Linked DNA regions of Homo sapiens: region 2 is linked to region 1. The links come from fine-mapping of genetic effects on gene expression. A gene starts in region 1. The other region holds a variant in brackets. All regions are shown on one strand. Distances are between the middles of the regions. Region 1 holds the start of PCGF3 (polycomb group ring finger 3). Region 2 has its middle 61 kb from the start of NKX1-1.

Region 1 (8,323 bases):
ATGCATCATTCACTCTTGCCTTTCATTCATTTGTTCATGCATCATTCACTCTTGCCTTTCATTCGTTCATGCATCATTCACTCTTTTGGGGAATGTACGGCACACCAAGCAGCCACACGGCACCCTCTGGGAGCAGGGTTCCTGGGATGACCACCCTCTGGAAACACCCCTGACAAGATGTCACTAGACAACCCTTCCCTAGTCAAAGGACAGCATAGACCGCTCGCTTCTGAATACCTCATGCACCCCACTTTTTCATTACCACTTCCAAATTAAAGGAAAACACCCACAAGTTTTTGATAAAAGGCTGATTCAAAGGTTTCAGAGAAATAAACCAACCCCCGTCCCCAGCCCGATCACCACCAGGATCCTTTAATTCCTTCCCTTACTAGAGAGGGAGTGGGAAATAGCCTTGCCTGCTCCAACTTTCCTGACTTGGACCAACTGTCCCCAAAATATGCCCAGGAGTCCACATCCCAGCTCAGACCCCACCCCTCCTCCAAGTCTCCCGGACACTGGAAACGCCTCTACACTGAGGAAGTGGGGCACTCACATGACCTTGAAGATGGGGAGAGGGGCAGGAGGGGTTGAAGGTGCTGGACACGGACCACAGCCAAGGCAAGGACAGGACAGCAGCCCCGGACGAGGGGCTGAGTGGGAGGGTGCAGTGCCAGCCTGAGGTGTGGAGCCTGTGGGCTGGGAGCTCCTGGAACCCTGAGGCCCCTGCCTCATACCTACCCCAGGTATCACCTAGGCGGTTCATGTGCAGGGGCTGTGGGGCTGGCCCAGGGTCTCATGGAAAGGGCCTCGGGTACCAGGATGCCAGATGCCTGGCCTTCACAGCAGGTGCATCCAGCTGAGTGGACTGGGCAGATTCAGGACACTGCTGGATTCCCCCCCGAGGGTCCCAGTACTCCTTACAGTCCAGTCTTGGGGCCTACATGCTCCTCAGTGACTTGTTCAGGAGTCCCAGCCCTCTGAGGACCTGTCTGGAAGTTCCAGCTCTCATCAGGTCCTCTTTGAGAGCCTAGCCTTCTTCCCAGTCCACACCAGTGTCCCGACCCTAAGTGACCCCGTTTGAGGTCCTGGTCATCTAGAAGCCTGTCCATGTCATGAGCCCTTCTCACTGTCCAGTCTCAGGGTGCCGGGCCCTGGGAGAAAACAGGGCTGTCTCAGGGTCCCGGCCCCCAGGTGAAAACAGGGCTGTCCCAGGGTCCCGGCCCCCAGGTGAAAACAGGGCTGTCCCAGGGTCCCGGCCCCCAGGGGAAAACAGGGCTGTCCCAGGGTCCCGACCCCCAGGGGAAAACAGGGCTGTCCCAGGGTCCCGGCCCCCAGGGGAAAACAGGGCTGTCCCAGGGTCCCGACCCCCAGGGGAAAACAGGGCTGTCTCAGGGTCCCGACCCCCAGGTGAAAACAGGGCTGTCCCAGGGTCCCGACCCCCAGGGGAAAACAGGGCTGTCCCAGGGTCCCGGCCCCCAGGGGAAAACAGAGCTGTCCCAGGGTCCCGGCCCCCAGGTGAAAACAGAGCTGTCTCAGGGTCCCGGCCCCCAGGTGAAAACAGAGCTGTCTCAGGGTCCCGGCCCCCAGGGGAAAACAGAGCTGTCCCAGGGTCCCGACCCCCAGGGGAAAACAGGGCTGTCCCAGGGTCCCGACCCCCAGGGGAAAACAGAGCTGTCCCAGAGTCCCGACCCCCAGGGGAAAACAGAGCTGTCCCAGGGTCCCGACCCCCAGGGGAAAACAGGGCTGTCCCAGGGTCCCGGCCCCCGGGTGAAAACAGGCTGTCCCAGGGTCCCGGCCCCCAGGGGAAAACAGGGCTGTCTCAGGGTCCCGGGGGAGACGGGGCAGTCTCAGGGTCCCAGCAGTGCTCACAGGACTCACAAGACTGCTCCAGGGTCAGGTCCTCCTGAATTATGGTCATGGGGTCCTGGCCCTCGTCTGTGACCCACTTTAAGGCAGGACCTTCCTGGGGGATCTATTCTGGGGTCCTGGCATTCTTTGGATTCTGCCTGGTCCCTACGTCTGGCCCTCCTCCGTGATTCTTCCCAGGGTCCTAGCCCCCCCGGGCCCTGCCAGGTGGCCAGGTCCGACCCTCCTTGGTGACCCATCTTGGGGTCCCAGCCCTTCTCGGTGACCTGTCCCAGGGTCAGACCCTCCTGGATGATGTGTCATTGTGTCCTAGCACTCTGGGGGTCCTGTGCAATCCCAGAGCCCAACTCTCTTCAGGTCCTGCCTGGTCTGAAGACCCAGCCCTCCCGGGGTCCTGCCTGGGCTGGGGTCGCGACCTTCCCAGGGTCCTGCCTGGGCTGGGGTCCCTACCCTCCCGCGGTCCTGCCTGGGCTGGGGTCTTTGCCCTCACCTGGGTCCTGCCTGGTCTGGGGTCTTCGCCCTCCCTGGGTCCTGCCTGGGCTGGGGTCGCGACCTTCCCAGGGTCCTGCCTGGTCTGGGGTCCCTGCCCTCCCGCGGTCCTGCCTGGGCTGGGGTCTTCGCCCTCACCTGGGTCCTGCCTGGTCTGGGGTCTTCGCCCTCCCTGGGTCCTGCCTGGGCTGGGGTCGCGACCTTCCCAGGGTCCTGCCTGGTCTGGGGTCCCTGCCCTCCCGCGGTCCTGCCTGGGCTGGGGTCTTCGCCCTCCCTGGGTCCTGCCTGGTCTGGGGTCTTGGCCCTCCCGGGGTCCTGCCTGGTCTGGGGTCCCTGCCCTCCCGCGGTCCTGCCTGGGCTGGGGTCTTCGCCCTCCCTGGGTCCTGCCTGGTCTGGGGTCTTGGCCCTCCCGGGGTCCTGCCTGGTCTGGGGTCTTGGCCCTCCCTGTTCTGGGGTCTTTGCCCTCCCTGGGTCCTGCCTGGGCTGGGGTCTTCGACCTCCCGGAGTCCTGCCTGGGCTGGGGTCTTGCCCTCCCTGCGTCCTGCCTGGACTGGGGTCTTGCCCTCCCTGCGTCCTGCCTGGGCTGCTGTCCCAGCCCTCCCTGGGTCCTGCCTGGGCTGGGGTCTTCGACCTCCCGGAGTCCTGCCTGGGCTGGGGTCTTGCCCTCCCTGCGTCCTGCCTAGGCTGGAGTCCCAGCCCTCCCGGGGTCCTGCCTGGGCTGGGCTCTTGGCCCTCCCGGAGTCCTGCCTGGGCTGGGGTCTTCGACCTCCCGGAGTCCTGACTGGGCTGGGGTGCCGGCCCTCCCGGGCCTGCCAAGGGCTTCCCGGGCCAGGCCGACGGGGACGACGGAGCGCGGGCCCGGGGTTCGGAGCCTTCCGGGCCGGACACGGGCCGAGGCCGCAGCCTGAGGAGCGGGCGCCGAGGGCCCAGGCCAGGCGGGGCGGACTCACTGACCTGCGGTCTCGGGGCTGCGGGCGAGCAAGGCGCACGCGGGGTCCGCGCCGGAGGGGGGAGGGGGCGCCGCTCCCTCTGGGTCCCCCCCAAGAGGAGGAGAAAAAAGCCCGTCCGGAGTTTAAAACAAAGAGGCGGAAATGCCCGAGCCGAGCCGAGCGCCGCGTCGGGGGCGCCGCGCTCGGAGCATGCGCGGTGTGCGTCTGGGCTCCCACCCCGCGGCAAGGGGCGTGGGCGGGGCCAGGCGGTAAGGGGTGGGGATAGGGGCGGGGAGGGGCGTGTTCAGAGGGCGCAGGCGCGTCGGGCCTGGACTCGGCGGAGGGAGCCGCGGGGCGCGAGGGCCAGGGGCGAGGCATAGGGCGGGGCCATGAGGGGCGTGGTCAGGAGAGCGACAGGGCCGCGCTGTGCTGAGGGACCCGACGGGTCCTGGACGATCGTGAGCTGGGGCGCTGGAGCAGCAGAGTCCTCAGGCCCGGGTCCCTCCGGGGGTGCCGTCCAGTACGGGTGCTGCTGTCCTTTGTGGGAGCCGGGACTGAGCGCCCTCCCGGCAGGGTTAAGGGTCGGTGTTAGGGTCAGGGGTCGGGTTAGGGGTCAGAGTCAGGGTTAGGGTTGGGTTTAGGTTTAGGGTCAGGGTTAGGGGTTAGAGTCAGGGTTAGGACTGGGTTTAGGGCTAGGGTCAGCATTAGGGGTTAGGGTTAGGGTTGGGTTTATGGTTAGGGTCAGGATTAGGGGTGGGGTCAGGGTCAGGGGTTAGGGTCTGGTCTAGGGTTAGGGTTGGGTTTAGGGTTAGGGTCAGGGTTAGGGTTAGGGTTGGGTTTTAGGGTTAGGGTCAGGGTTAGGGTTAGAGTCAGGGTTAGGACTGGATTTAGGGTTAGGGTCAGCATTAGGGGTTAGGGTTAGGGTTGGTTTTACGGTTAGGGTCAGGATTAGGGGTAGGGTCAGAGTTAGGGGTTAGGTTTAGGGTTAGGGTTGGGTTTAGGGTTAGGGTCAGGATTAGGGGTGGGGTCAGGGTCAGGGGTTCGGGTCTGGTCATGTTTAGGCTTGTATTTAGGTTATGTTCAGCATCAGGACGGACAGGGCACCCACGTGCGGACTCTCCGACCTGGGTGCCCTCCGCCAGGGTGGAGCAGTACGGGCGGCATTTGCGCCTTCGTGGGACTGGCACTGTCCTGAGAGGGCGGGATCCGAGGACCGAGGGCGCGTGCGGGGGTGAGGCGGACGTGCAGGCACGCGGGGTCCTAGGGTCTCCCGGTTTGCGGGTTCTGGGCTGGCGGCCCAGGACGGGAGGGCAGGTTGGGTCTTGGGTGGGAAGCGAGACCACTGTGGTTCCGGGCGGCGGGGCACCGCGCAGTGTGGAGGCTTGGTGGCGAGAGGGGAGGCCCCGTAGGCCCAGGGGCACTCGCTGCGAGGCTGTGCGGTGCAGGCATGGAGCAGGAGTCGGGAGTCATTAGCTCGTCCCGTCTGGAGAGGTGGTGGCTGAGGGAGTGACCCTGCGACTGTCCCCGTGAAGTCTAGAGTTGGACCCCGGGAGCAGCCACCAGGCAGGGGGCCCCGGGCCCAGGTATGGTGCAGCACGTGGGGAAGCGGCTTGAGTCCGCTGCTGAGAGGGGCCTGAGAAGGGCTGGGGGCCTGCTGAGATCTCCAGCACTGGGTGGACACGTTATCCGGGTGGGAGGAGGACAGACAGCAGACATGTGAATGTGTACAGCATTCCCAGGCATGCTGCTGTGAAGGGGAGGGACTAAATGTGGCCACTGCTGCCCCCGGGGGAGGGGAGGCAGGGAGGGCTCCGTGGAGCCATGGGGTGGCCCAGTGCAGGGGAGGGGCCCACTGGAGAGGGCTGCCTGGGATTGGGGTACTGGGGTGCTGGCCCTCCACAAGAGCCCTGACTGCAGTTTTCAGTTGGTGGAGGCAGGCCCCAGATGTGGAGGGGAGGACTGGAGGATCATCCCAGAAGGAGGGCAGGGGCAAGGTATTGGTGCTGGGGTGCAAGGGGCAGGGGGTGGCCAGCAGGCCAGGAACAGTCCTGGGCTGAGTGTGGTGGCCTCAGGAAGAGGCAGAGTGGTAAGCTGCAGTTCAGAACTCACTCCAGGCCCCAGGCCCCTCCTCAAGGAGGTGCAGACCCTACCCCTAGGCTTCCCACTACTCTCCTGGGTGGGTGCCAGCGGTGCCCGGACCTTGACTCTGAGCCCTGGGCTCTTGTGTCCAGCTCTGTTTCTGCTGAATGTCATTAGGAAGCTTAAATGCCACATGGCCGGATGGCTTCCCCAGGCCATCCTGAGTCTGCTGTGTACCCCAGGACCCCCCACCCCCCACCGCCAGTCCTGAGGCAAGACCCCAGAGTCCTCTGCACCCTCTTCCTCTCATGCCCAAACTGGCCATCCATGGCCCATCGGCAGCCAGCCAGGTCTCCCACCTGCACCCTCCTGGGACCTCACTCAGCCAAGGCCCGAGGGTGGAGGCATCGGGGCCAAAGAAGCCTAGGGTGTTGGCAGTGTGTGCTGTCCTGGTGTGAGTTCGGGGTGTGCACATATTACATACAGGCACGTATTCCTTAGCAGAGCTGTAAAGAAGGGAGGCAGGAATCATGGCACAAGCAGACTGGAGTAGAGGGGAGGCCCCTGTCCCCCCCAGAGGGTGCCCCAACCTTCCCCAGGGTGCCGGTCCGCCCTCCCTGCCCACCCAGTCACTAGGGCCTCCTAGGGCCATTGGGTGCCTCTCTGGCAGATCATTCTGGTCACTCACAAACTGGCAGAGGGTCTGCCCATCCTTGAGGATGGAGCAGAACAGAAAGAGCTCGCTGGACCCTGTGCTTCTCTGCTGTCTTCACAGCGTCACTCTTCAGGAACTCTTTCTCCAATTTCCCTCCCCGAGTTCTCTCTTAAGCACATCAGGCATCTGCGCCTACCCCCATGTCTCAACCAAATGCTCCAGGACTTTGTGGGGTAAATCCAACTGCCTTTGTCACCACCCTTTCTGTTGCTGGGGTACAGACATGTGGTCTTGTTCCCAATTGCTCTCTTCTGTTTTCATCAGAAAGTCCTGCCAGCTCTGTCTTGGAAACTTCCCATCATCCAACCATGGCTTTCCAAGGCTGCTCTGGCCCAAACCCGCCCTGTCCTGCTGGAACTGGTGCCACAGCCTTGGGCCCCCCACCCCCAGTCAATCCTCAACAGAGCAGCCAACCAGCGGGTCCCGTCACACCCAAGTGGGAGCGCTCCACCCAGCGCGTGATGATAAGGACGTCCTCTGAGGTCCCTGCTCCCACCTCTGCCTGTTTCCCCAAGCTCACTCCACCCAGAGCTCTCCCTGACACTCACTCACCTTGTTGGCAAGGCTGTCAGGAAACAGGGCTCTCAGACGTGAGTGGTGGGAGCAGAGGAGCGTTTGACAGTATCCAGCAAAGTACACGGGCATTTATCCTTCAGCCCAGTGGCCCCCAAATAGGACTTTATTCCAGAGATAAATGGCAGGAATAAAAAAGATGGATGACCAAGGCTATTAATTGCAGCATAATGTATAACAGAAAAATTGAAAACATGGCCATCCACACGGTTAATCGGATACACTCTTGAACCTCCACACCTTGGATAGTGAATAAAGAAGAGATAAAGATAAAGAAGACTGATAAAGAAGAGACTGATGGTACCACACACTCTTACTTACAGAGTGACCTCCGGTATCCAGGATATGCTGTCCTGCGAGATGAGAAAAGGGCTCACAGTTGCTGCCATTTACCTGGAGCAGGGACCATTGAAGTTCTACCCATTTACCATTGAACATTCTACCCATTTGCCTGCCCTAAAAATGCTTTGTGGAGGCCAGTGTGGCTCACACCTGTAGTCCCAGCACTTTGGGAGGCTGAGGCGGGAGGATTACTTGGGCGCAGGAGTTTGAGACCAGCCTGGAATAACATAGTGAGACCCCATCTCTTTTCTTTTCTTTTCTTTTCTTTTCTTTTCTTTTCTTTTCTTTTCTTTTCTTTTCTTTTCTTTTCTTTGATATGGAGTCTCACACTGTCACCCAGGCTGGAGTGCAGTGGCACGATCTCGGCTCACTGCAGCCTCCACCTCCCACGTTCAAGCAATTCTCGTGCCTCAGCCTCTCAAGTAGCTGGGATTACAGGCATAAGCCACCACACCTGGCTAATTTTTGAATTTTTAGTAGAGATGGAGTCTTGGCATGTTGGCCAGGTTGGTCTCGAACTCCTGACCTCAAGTGATTCACCTGTCTCGGCCTCCCAAAGTGCTGGGATTACAGGCATGAGCCACCATGCCTGGCCCCTGTCTCTTAAAAAAAATAAAAAATAAAAAAATAAAAATAGGTGGGGTGCAGTGGCTCATGCCTATAACCCCAGCACTTTGAAAGGCCGAGACTGGTGGATCATTTGAACCCAGGAGTTCAAGACCAGCCTGAGCAACATGGTGAAACCCTGTTTATACTAAAAATAAACAACAACAAGTATCTGGGCATGGTGGTGCATGGTGGTGTGCATCTGTGGCCTCAGCTCCTTGGGAGGTTGAGGTGGGAGGATTGCTTGAGCCCAGCAGGTGGAGGTTGCAGTGAGCCGAGATTGCACCGCTGTACTCCAGCCCAGATGACAGAGGAAGACCCTGTCTCAAAATAAAATAAATAAATAAATAAATCCCTGTGGATTCTGGGAAGATGGTGGCAGTAGCAAGAATTTTGTATCTCCCCGAATTCCCTCATGAGACTCATAAAACTACAAGGCAGATCAAAACTGAGGTGCACAGCACTGACTGCAAAGCCAGAAGATGACGTATTTTCACACCAGGGGGAGGCAAAGCTCACAGCCTCAATCTCTGTGCCATCGGCATGTGTGTGCAGGGCGTGAGTTTACCCTCTTTCCCGAAGCAGCTGAAACAGTGGACAAAATACATCCAACGATCTTCAGACACTGGGCATCAGGGAGCACAGGACATGGTGCCTGAGAGAGGAGCAAATGGGGCGAGGCCTAAAGGAAGCCTCCTGGCTGCAACTCAGGGAGAGGAGCTGG
Region 2 (8,323 bases), 760 kb before region 1:
CCACTCTGCCAGGCCCAATAGTGAGTCCCTCTGGGAACCACATGCGCCCTGCCAAGCTCAGCAGTGACGTCCACTTGGGACTACACCCACCCTCTGCGCCCTGACAGCTCAGCCAGCCCCAGGTCTGGCCGGGGTGTGATGGGTGACGCTGGCCATGTGGAGTCAGACAGCTGGGTGGGGACACTGGGAGCTGCCCTCCTGGGGAACCTCCCCAGGATTTCCCTGTCCCCTGCTCATGAGGGACCCCACAAGAGGGCCCCTTCACCACCCCTCCTCCTAGCCAGATTGGCCCCTGTTTTAAAGTCAGAGTTAAAGCCCCTTCCTCCTTGGGGCCTTCTCAGGCCTCACTCCCCTGACTTCCAGCGCCATCTTAACCCCTGTGCCTCACTCTCCTGCCCTGTTGGGCGGTGCCCTCGGGTCCTCTACCCATGGTCAGCATTGGTCCCAGCAGATGCCCTGACCCACTCCCACAAACCCTCCCAGGCCTCGGCCCCTCCTGCTTCCTAGACACATCCCCACCTGGCCAGCTAGAGCTGCCTGTGAGGGCAGTAGGGCTGGGCTGGCCGGGTCTCCGGGGGAAGGAGAAGCACTGGCCTGGAGCCTGGGCAGAGCTGGGCCCACGCCAGGGCCTGGGGTCTGAGAAGGAGCTCTCGGCGAGGGGTTCCTGGAGGAGGAGACAGAGCCTGAGAGGGATTCGCAGGGACAAGGGTGCTAGGAGGGCTGGTTACAGCATTGGGGTCAGGATGGAGCAGGTCCAGGGGAGGAGCAGTGTGGGGGACTTGGGGCCGATTTTTGAAGGACCCAGAGAAGTTGCATTGGCGTCAGCTCAGCTGGACATGTCCTTGATGGCTTTTGCCTTTTCTTACAAAGTTGAAGCCTGTAGGAAACACCTGGTTTGCTTTGGGTGAAGCCTGCCTGCCTGCTTGTTCTCTCCCCTGAGCAGCCGTGAAATTGATATTTAAAACTAATTGTACAGCACCCTCGGGGCAGCAGTGCCAGGCAGTGGCTGGACAGTGGCCATATTCATTCCATCTTGCCTCGGGCTCTGTCCATGACCCCAGCAGGAGATTAGGGGCTGAAGATGAGGGGCTTATCTCCAGCGGACAGGGGCTGCCCCACCCCCACTGCCAGCCGCAGCCCCCTCCTCCAGCTGCCCACGGCCGCTCAGCTGCCCCCTCCTCGGAGAGTGGCCCTCCGATCTCATAACATCCAATTACTGCCCTGACTGCTGTCTGGGTCTCAGATCAAATCGCTCAGCTGCAGTGAGGAGCCCCAAACAGGTCAATCTTGGCCGGTTAGACACGGTGTCCAGCATGAGGCCGCGGAGCCCGCCTCAGGAGCCAGAGGCAACACGCACAGCCCTGGGGTCGTGGCCGCCACCAGCGTCTTGATGATACTGGGCTCTGGCTGTGAGTCAGGGCCAGGACACTGTCAGCATGCAGGGCGCGGTCAGGCATGGACACGAGGGTGGTGGCCTTGGGAAGGGTCACCAGCGACTGGCCACCAGGCCACCCAGCAGCTCTGGCAGTAGGTGCCGCGGCCCCCGGCCCACTGGCTGCAGGCCTGTGTGCTGTAGTGCACTGGGTGGAACAGCATCCCTCTGAAATTCCTGTACATCAGTACCCATGAGTGTGACTCATTCAGAAACAGGCTTTGCAGATGTACTCAAGGTAAAATGGAGTCACATGGGTAGGGCGGGCCCTAATCCAATGACTGGTGTCCTTGTAAGAAGAGAAAACAGAGACACGGAGACACCCACGCAGGGAGATGGCCATGTGAAGACAGAGGCAGGTGGAGTGTGCTGCTACAAGCCAAGAGGATGGCATCCAGGAAGGCCAGCAGCCCAGGAATCTGGGGAGACGCAGGAAGGGTCCTCCCCTGGAGACTGCAGAGAGTGTAGCTCTGCCAGCACCTGGGTTTCAGGCTTCTGGGCTCCAGCCTGTGAGAGGACGCACTTCTGGCATTGTTAGCCCCTCGGGTTGGGGCACTTTGTTATGGCAGCCACAGGACATTGGTGTGCCCACTGTGTTGGCAAAATCTCTGGTTGGTCCCTAGGCCCACAGCTTCTGCCCACCTCCCACCACCTCCCCTCCAAGCCTCCTACCCTTCTCATGGCCCTTTGGGGTACCCACAGCTATACCCTGATGTTCAGAGGTCACTTGAATCCACTGAGAATCTTATGTCAGTCCCAGCCATGTCATCAAACAGGGGCCAGCCCCCTGTGATCTCCACTCCCTACCCTGGGGGCCTCCTCAAAGCCAGGCAGCAGGGCTCTGCAATGCCCTTCAGGGTCCCAAGACCCTGAACCTTCCCCCCTTGCCAGTCAGCCCGAAACTCAGCAGGAGCAGGGTGCAGCGCTTAGAGCCATCCGCAGACCTAGCTCCACAGCCTCCACCTCTGGGAGCCTCAGTGCTTGCATCTGTAAAATAGGGGCGAAACTCCCACTGCTGAGGTGGCCTGCGCTCTATCATCCAAAGGAAAGAGTGGAAGCAGGTGTGTAAAAACGATGCCTGGTCAGCCAGTGTGGACAGGAATTATCCAGGAGAACCAGGTCCCTGAAATGTCCCTAGCCCCAAGGGTCATTGTGAGGACTAAATGGGTAAAGCTCTCTTTGCACAGTGCCCAGCCCTTAGTGGGCACTCAGCAGGCACTTTTCTCTGTCCCTTGATATTGACAGCCACTGGGGGCCTCCTCTGGACCCTGCATTCTCAGCCTAGAGTGGAAGGTGTCACCAGTACCGGTGGCCTGCTCTCCCTTTAAGGTTGGGCGCCAAATGTGGGGTCCTTTATGGCCCTCCTGCCACAGGCACTGATGCTCATCCGTGGCCTTCCACCTGGTGTCTCCTATTTCATTCACAGCCTCTTGTACTTGTGTGCTCTACCAAGGTTTCAAAAACCCATTATCCCATTTAATCTAATGGCAACAGTTTGATGTCAGCAAGGCAGATGTCTTTCCCATTATCTCTCACATCATCATTGCTCATATTCACCCATCATCACCACCATAATCATCACCATTATCATCATCCCCATCATCACTATCACCATCATTATTATCATCATTCACACCATCCCCACCAACATTATCACCACCATCACCACCATCAGCAGCAGCATCGCATCATCACTGTCAGCATTAACATAATCATCACCATTATCATCAACATCGCCATTATCATCAACGTCACCATCATCATCATCATCACCATCATCAGTAGCATCACCATCACCATCACCATCACTATCATCATCATTATCCCTACCATCATCACAATCATCACCACCATTGTCATCACCATGGTCACCACGATCACCACCACCATCATTATCACCATCACCATCATCATCATCACAGTCACCATCATCATCACCATCACCATCATCATCATCACAGTCACCATCATCATCACCATCACCATCATCTTCACCATCATCATCACCATCACCATCACCATCAGCAGCAGCATCACCATTACTATCACCATCATCCCTACCATCATCGTCATCACCATGGTCACCACCATCACCATCATCATAATCACCACCATCACCACCATCATCATCACCATCACCACCATCATTACCATCACCATCATCTTCACCATCATCACTACCACCATCATCATCACCATAATCACCACCATCACCACCATCATCACCATCATCACCACCATCACCACCATCATCACTATCATCACCACCACCACCATCACCATCACCACCATCATCACTATCATCACCACCATCACCACCATCATCATCACTATCATCATCACCATCACCACCATCATCACTACCACCATCATCATCACCATCACCATAATCACCATCATCACCACCATCATCACAATCAACACCATTATCACCATCACCATTGTCACTATTGTCAACCCAATGATGATCTTCTTCATTATCTTCACAATCATCCATCATCATCACCATTATTGTCACTGCCATCAACCCTTTCGTTATCTCCTTTATCACCACCATGACTGTCATCATCATCATCATCATCATCATCATCATCCAAAACCAATTTTCAGCTGCAAAGTCAAAGGTAAAGAGAAGCACTGAATGACTTGCTGAAGGCCACTCGGTCTTCTACAAGGCCACTTTTTAGAAGGGTTCAAACACTCAAACACCTTCTGATCTTCTTCTGTACCAGTCCCAGAAGAAATGCCACGCAAGCAGCCCCCACAGTGCCCTACGCTCTCTACCTTCCTCCTGGAGATGTGCTGATTTTCTGGCCCATGCCCACAGTCAATTCTGCTTGAGGCTTCTGTATCCTGCTCACTCCCTCAGTCATGCCCCATCTCTGTAAGGCCAGAGAATCCTTTTCCATAATACCCAATAAATAACCTGGATTTAATTGAATTAATATCGACAGCATGTAATTGCTCCTGGTTGTTCAAGCCTGCTGAAGAGGGGCGTGAGGGGGTGGGGCAGTGAGGTTATTGCTTTAAAAAAAAAAGGCCCTCAGCCCCGAGCAGCGTTTTGGCCTTATTATTATAGTTATAATGAGGGCGGCTGATTTGACCTCTCCTTCCACAATAGCGCAGCGCAGCCTGGCTAAATAAACTGCCAAAGTCCTTTGTCCCTGTGGGCTGTTTCTGGGTAATTAAAATCAATAGGGTCTTCCTCCAGCTCTCCTTAGCCTCATCAAGCCTCAGTGCTCAGGGCTGCCAGGTGTAAGACAAGCAAATGAACTTGCAGGCCCCTGGAGGGGTGGACTCAAGAGCTGCTTGCACACGAACCAATGGGGCGGGACGGGCAGCGCCCCGGCCAAGCCCGCTTCCCACCTGCTGGTGGCTGTCCTCCAGTGCTGTGGCCTCCCTGGGTCCCAGGAATTTTGGAAACAGCCACAGTCCCAGAGGTGATTGTGTGTGTGGCGGAGGTGGGGCAGGGGGG[A/GA]GGCTGCAGTGGGGGGACTCCAGAGTGGGCCGTGAGGCCAAGGTCTCAGGCTGCAGCTCCGAAGCCAATGGACAGAAGCCCCCAGGTGGGGCCTGGGGTCTGTGAGGAGGATCAGAAAGGGTTCTCCCCACCCGGGCCGGTATCCTTTGCCCACTCTCCCCACCCCGGCCAGGGACCTCTGCCTTCCCCACTCCACCTTTAACTTCATGGAAGGTGAAGTAAGTCCCTGTGGAGCACTGGACTCCCCTCCCCAGCGGCCACCCCACATCCTGTCCCTAGTCCCAGGGTGGCACTCAGTGGCCACGCGTGGACTCTCTGGACCACACAAGCTTCAGGGCCCTTGCTCACTGCTTAGCGGGTGGGCACCGAGGGGCACCCACCTGCAGGGTCCTGTCCTGGGCTCTGGGGCCCAGGAAGTGAACGGCATAGAGCCCACACCAAGGCAGGGAGGCCGGCCTGCTGCACTTGGAGCAAACTGGGAAGGAGCTGGCACAGGGTGTGGGCAGTGGGGCGGGAGGGCCCCGAGGAGGCCGTGGCAGGTGCAGGGACCAGGCCCTGGGAGGCCGTGGGGGCAGATGAGTGGATTCCAGAAACACGCCAAGGACAGAGACTGAGAGGTCTGTGAAGATGGGGTGGTGGGGGGCACTGACGTGAGGGTGAGGGGCCAGCCGTGGGGGTCATCAAGCTCAGAAGAGCCAGTGGAGCTGGAGGCACCCACTTGGGGTCCTCAATGTGTGGATGAGGGATGAGTGCAGACAGGGCAGGGAGGGGTCAGGGCAGCACCGGGTGCCCACAGTTAGAGGATGGGGCCTGGAGAGACAGAGAAAGCAGCACGGAGCCAGGGCAGGAGAGTCTGCAGGGAGCAGAGCTGGGGTGCTGGGCCGAGCTCGGGGTGGCCGAGCTCCAGAGGCAGGATTGGAAATGCCCCCAGGGGCTGAGGCCACACTGGGCTCCTCCCCGCCTCCTCCTCCTCAGCACCCTGTGAGGCAGGGACCACAGTGCTCCTTCTACAGATGAGAGTGGTCCTCATACTCAAGGTTGCGCGGCTTGCCCTGTCCTCCTCGTCCCCAAAACAGACCTCGGCCCCGCCCACTTGTCCACTCTGGGGGACCCCTGCCGAGTCTGCCTGGCCACTCAGGGACCTTCTCACTGGTCACCACCACGGACGCATCCTCCCTCTCCTGCCCCTTGCTCTGGCCCAGTCTCCTCCCTCAAGGCCTCGGCGGCTCCCCCTGCACTGGGCTGTCTGTCCAGCTGTTTTTGAGGCTGCCCCCACAGATCTCCCCGCCCTCTGACATCCCTTCTCCTGGCCCCCTCCACCACAGTGCCCGGCGTCTCCTCCCCAGCACCGCACAGTCTGGCTGCCAGGTCCGGCTTTAGTCCAGAGAGCAGGCTTAGAGGGCAGGGGCAGGGGTGAGGCAGGAGCTGCCCGCTGGCTACAGCCCCTAAGGGAAAGGCCCCTTCTGGATGTAAACTGTTACATTTCCACCCATGTGTGTGAGTTTTGGCTTCTGCTAGGCCCTGGCCTGGCCTCAGGCCTGCAGGGCTTGTCCCATGTGGTGGGGTGGGGACCACAGCACCAACCTGGGGAGGCCGCTGCAGCCTGGGAGAGGCTCCACCTGAGGCCCTTCCACCCCAGCCTCTCCACTCCCGCTCAGAGCTCCCTCCCTGCCCAGCTGCTCAGAATCCTCTTCAAGACAGCCTGCAGCAGGGGCTGGAGTCAACCGCCTGTGCCCTGGGACCCAGCACGGAGCCTGGTGACCCACAGGAGACAGCCAATTCCTGTGTCCGTCAGGGTCCAGCCGGAGGCAGAGCTGACACAGGCCACCCTTGGTGTGGGCTCAACGGGTGAGTCCCAGAGGGTGGGGGGAGCAGGACCAGAGGCCCTCGGATCCTGATACGTAAGGACCTGATGCTGGCAGAGGGAGGTGGCCCCAGCCAGCCCTGCGGGGACACTGCCCACCAATCAGAAGGCGAAGGGTTGGGCTCGGCCAGGCCACCCGCCCCTCACCTCCACTCAGCGGCAGGTTCACCAAGGACGTCTAACAGCCCAGCTCTGGCCTTCCTCCCACACAGCCTACGGGCCACCCAGTGCCCGATGACACCTGACTTTGAGGGTCTCTGTCTGGCTTGCCGAGGACCAGGAAAGAGTTTATTTCCATTCTTAAAAGAGGTTTCAACTTCATGATCCTCCGTAAGCCCTCTTTTCCTAATTAAATGTAGCCTGAATTAAATTCCTTTCAGGGTGCGGGGGCAGCCGGCGCGCTGACCAGCCAGAGGGACCCTCACCCCTCGGGGTGGGCACGAGCAGCAATCACAGGACAGTGATCCATGGGCCAATATCCCCAGCACCCACGCAGCCGACCCCAGGGCCGCTATTAGCTGCTTTTTAATTAACTGTCCACCTCTCCCACCCTGGGCAATCAGACGCCCAGAAGAGGGAAGGAGCAGCCAGGCAGTCTGGTGTCCATGGCCTCCTTTCCTGCTGACGCTGTGGGGCTGCCGGCGCCCCCTGAGCCGCACTCCGGGGCCTCTGTGTCTCCCCGTCCTGCACAGTGCAGAAATCCCAACCTTCACCCACATTCCCTCGGGTCTCCCAGGGCCTTCTGGTCTTCTCGGGTTGGCTGGGGGAACACTGGATCCTGCAGAGGCAGTGGCAGGAGTGAGGGGCCTGAGGGGCCCTCCGGGGAGGGAGGGCAGGGGCTGGGGAGGGGACACCCGAGGTAGGAGGGGGCAGAAGGCCTGGCAGCAGGAGGACCAGGGGTGGGGGAGCCGTGTCGGCCACGGGGTCAGGGGGCTGCGGCTGCCCCCTCCCTTGGGGATGCCTGGGGACACGGTGCACCCCACAACCACCAGCCACCCCCCAGGGCCTGCCCACAGCACAGGGGTCCAGAGACCGACAGTGGTGAATCAGGTACGCGCCGACTGGACCTTGGGTTTCCAGAAACTGCCTCCAACAGAGATCCTTGGGTTTGAACCCAGGCCCAGACAAAGCTGGGACCCCAGCCCCACTCCTGCACTTATTTCATGAAGCTTTGTGGGCACTGAGTCGCTGCCTTCCTGCAGCAGAAATCTGGTGGGAGAGAGGGGCACAGACGGGAGAGGGCAGGCTGCCTGGCGAGGAGGGGGCAACGGTTCAGCTCGGTCGGCATGGGGGCCACTTTGAGGAAGTGACTTGGAGCTGAGGCCGCAGCAAGGGAGCAGTGAGCTCCACACAGCTGTGGGTCTCGTGCTCCCTGCAGATGGCATGTGCAGAGGCCCGAAGCAGGCAGGGATGAGGTCAGCGTGGCTGGAGCGTACGCAGGAAGCCGGCGGCCAGGGAGGAGAGAAAAGGCTGGGGGCCCACGGGGGAGGCTCTGCGGCCTTGGCTGCAGGCTACAGGAGCTGGCCCCTCTGAGAGCCGGAGGGAAGGACAG

Evidence for each region. PIP is the estimated chance that this variant, and not a neighbour inherited with it, causes the effect.
Region 2: its variant is the best candidate, but not a certain one, in a credible set for the expression of PCGF3 in monocytes after R848 (Quach 2016, PIP 0.86).

The regions. Positions count from the first base shown.
Region 1 is chr4:700,957-709,279 of GRCh38, reverse strand. It overlaps PCGF3 (polycomb group ring finger 3), which reads right to left and starts at 3,448. Exons shown (of 11, transcript NM_006315.7): 1 at 3,310-3,448. RefSeq lists enhancers at 1,690-2,674, 2,675-3,660, 4,701-5,428, 7,986-8,323 and a silencer at 3,026-3,725.
Region 2 is chr4:1,463,237-1,471,559 of GRCh38, reverse strand. No RefSeq gene overlaps it. Among named protein-coding and RNA genes, the nearest start is that of NKX1-1, 61 kb to the right of the region's middle. The variant A/GA (reference allele first, on the strand shown) is at 4,908.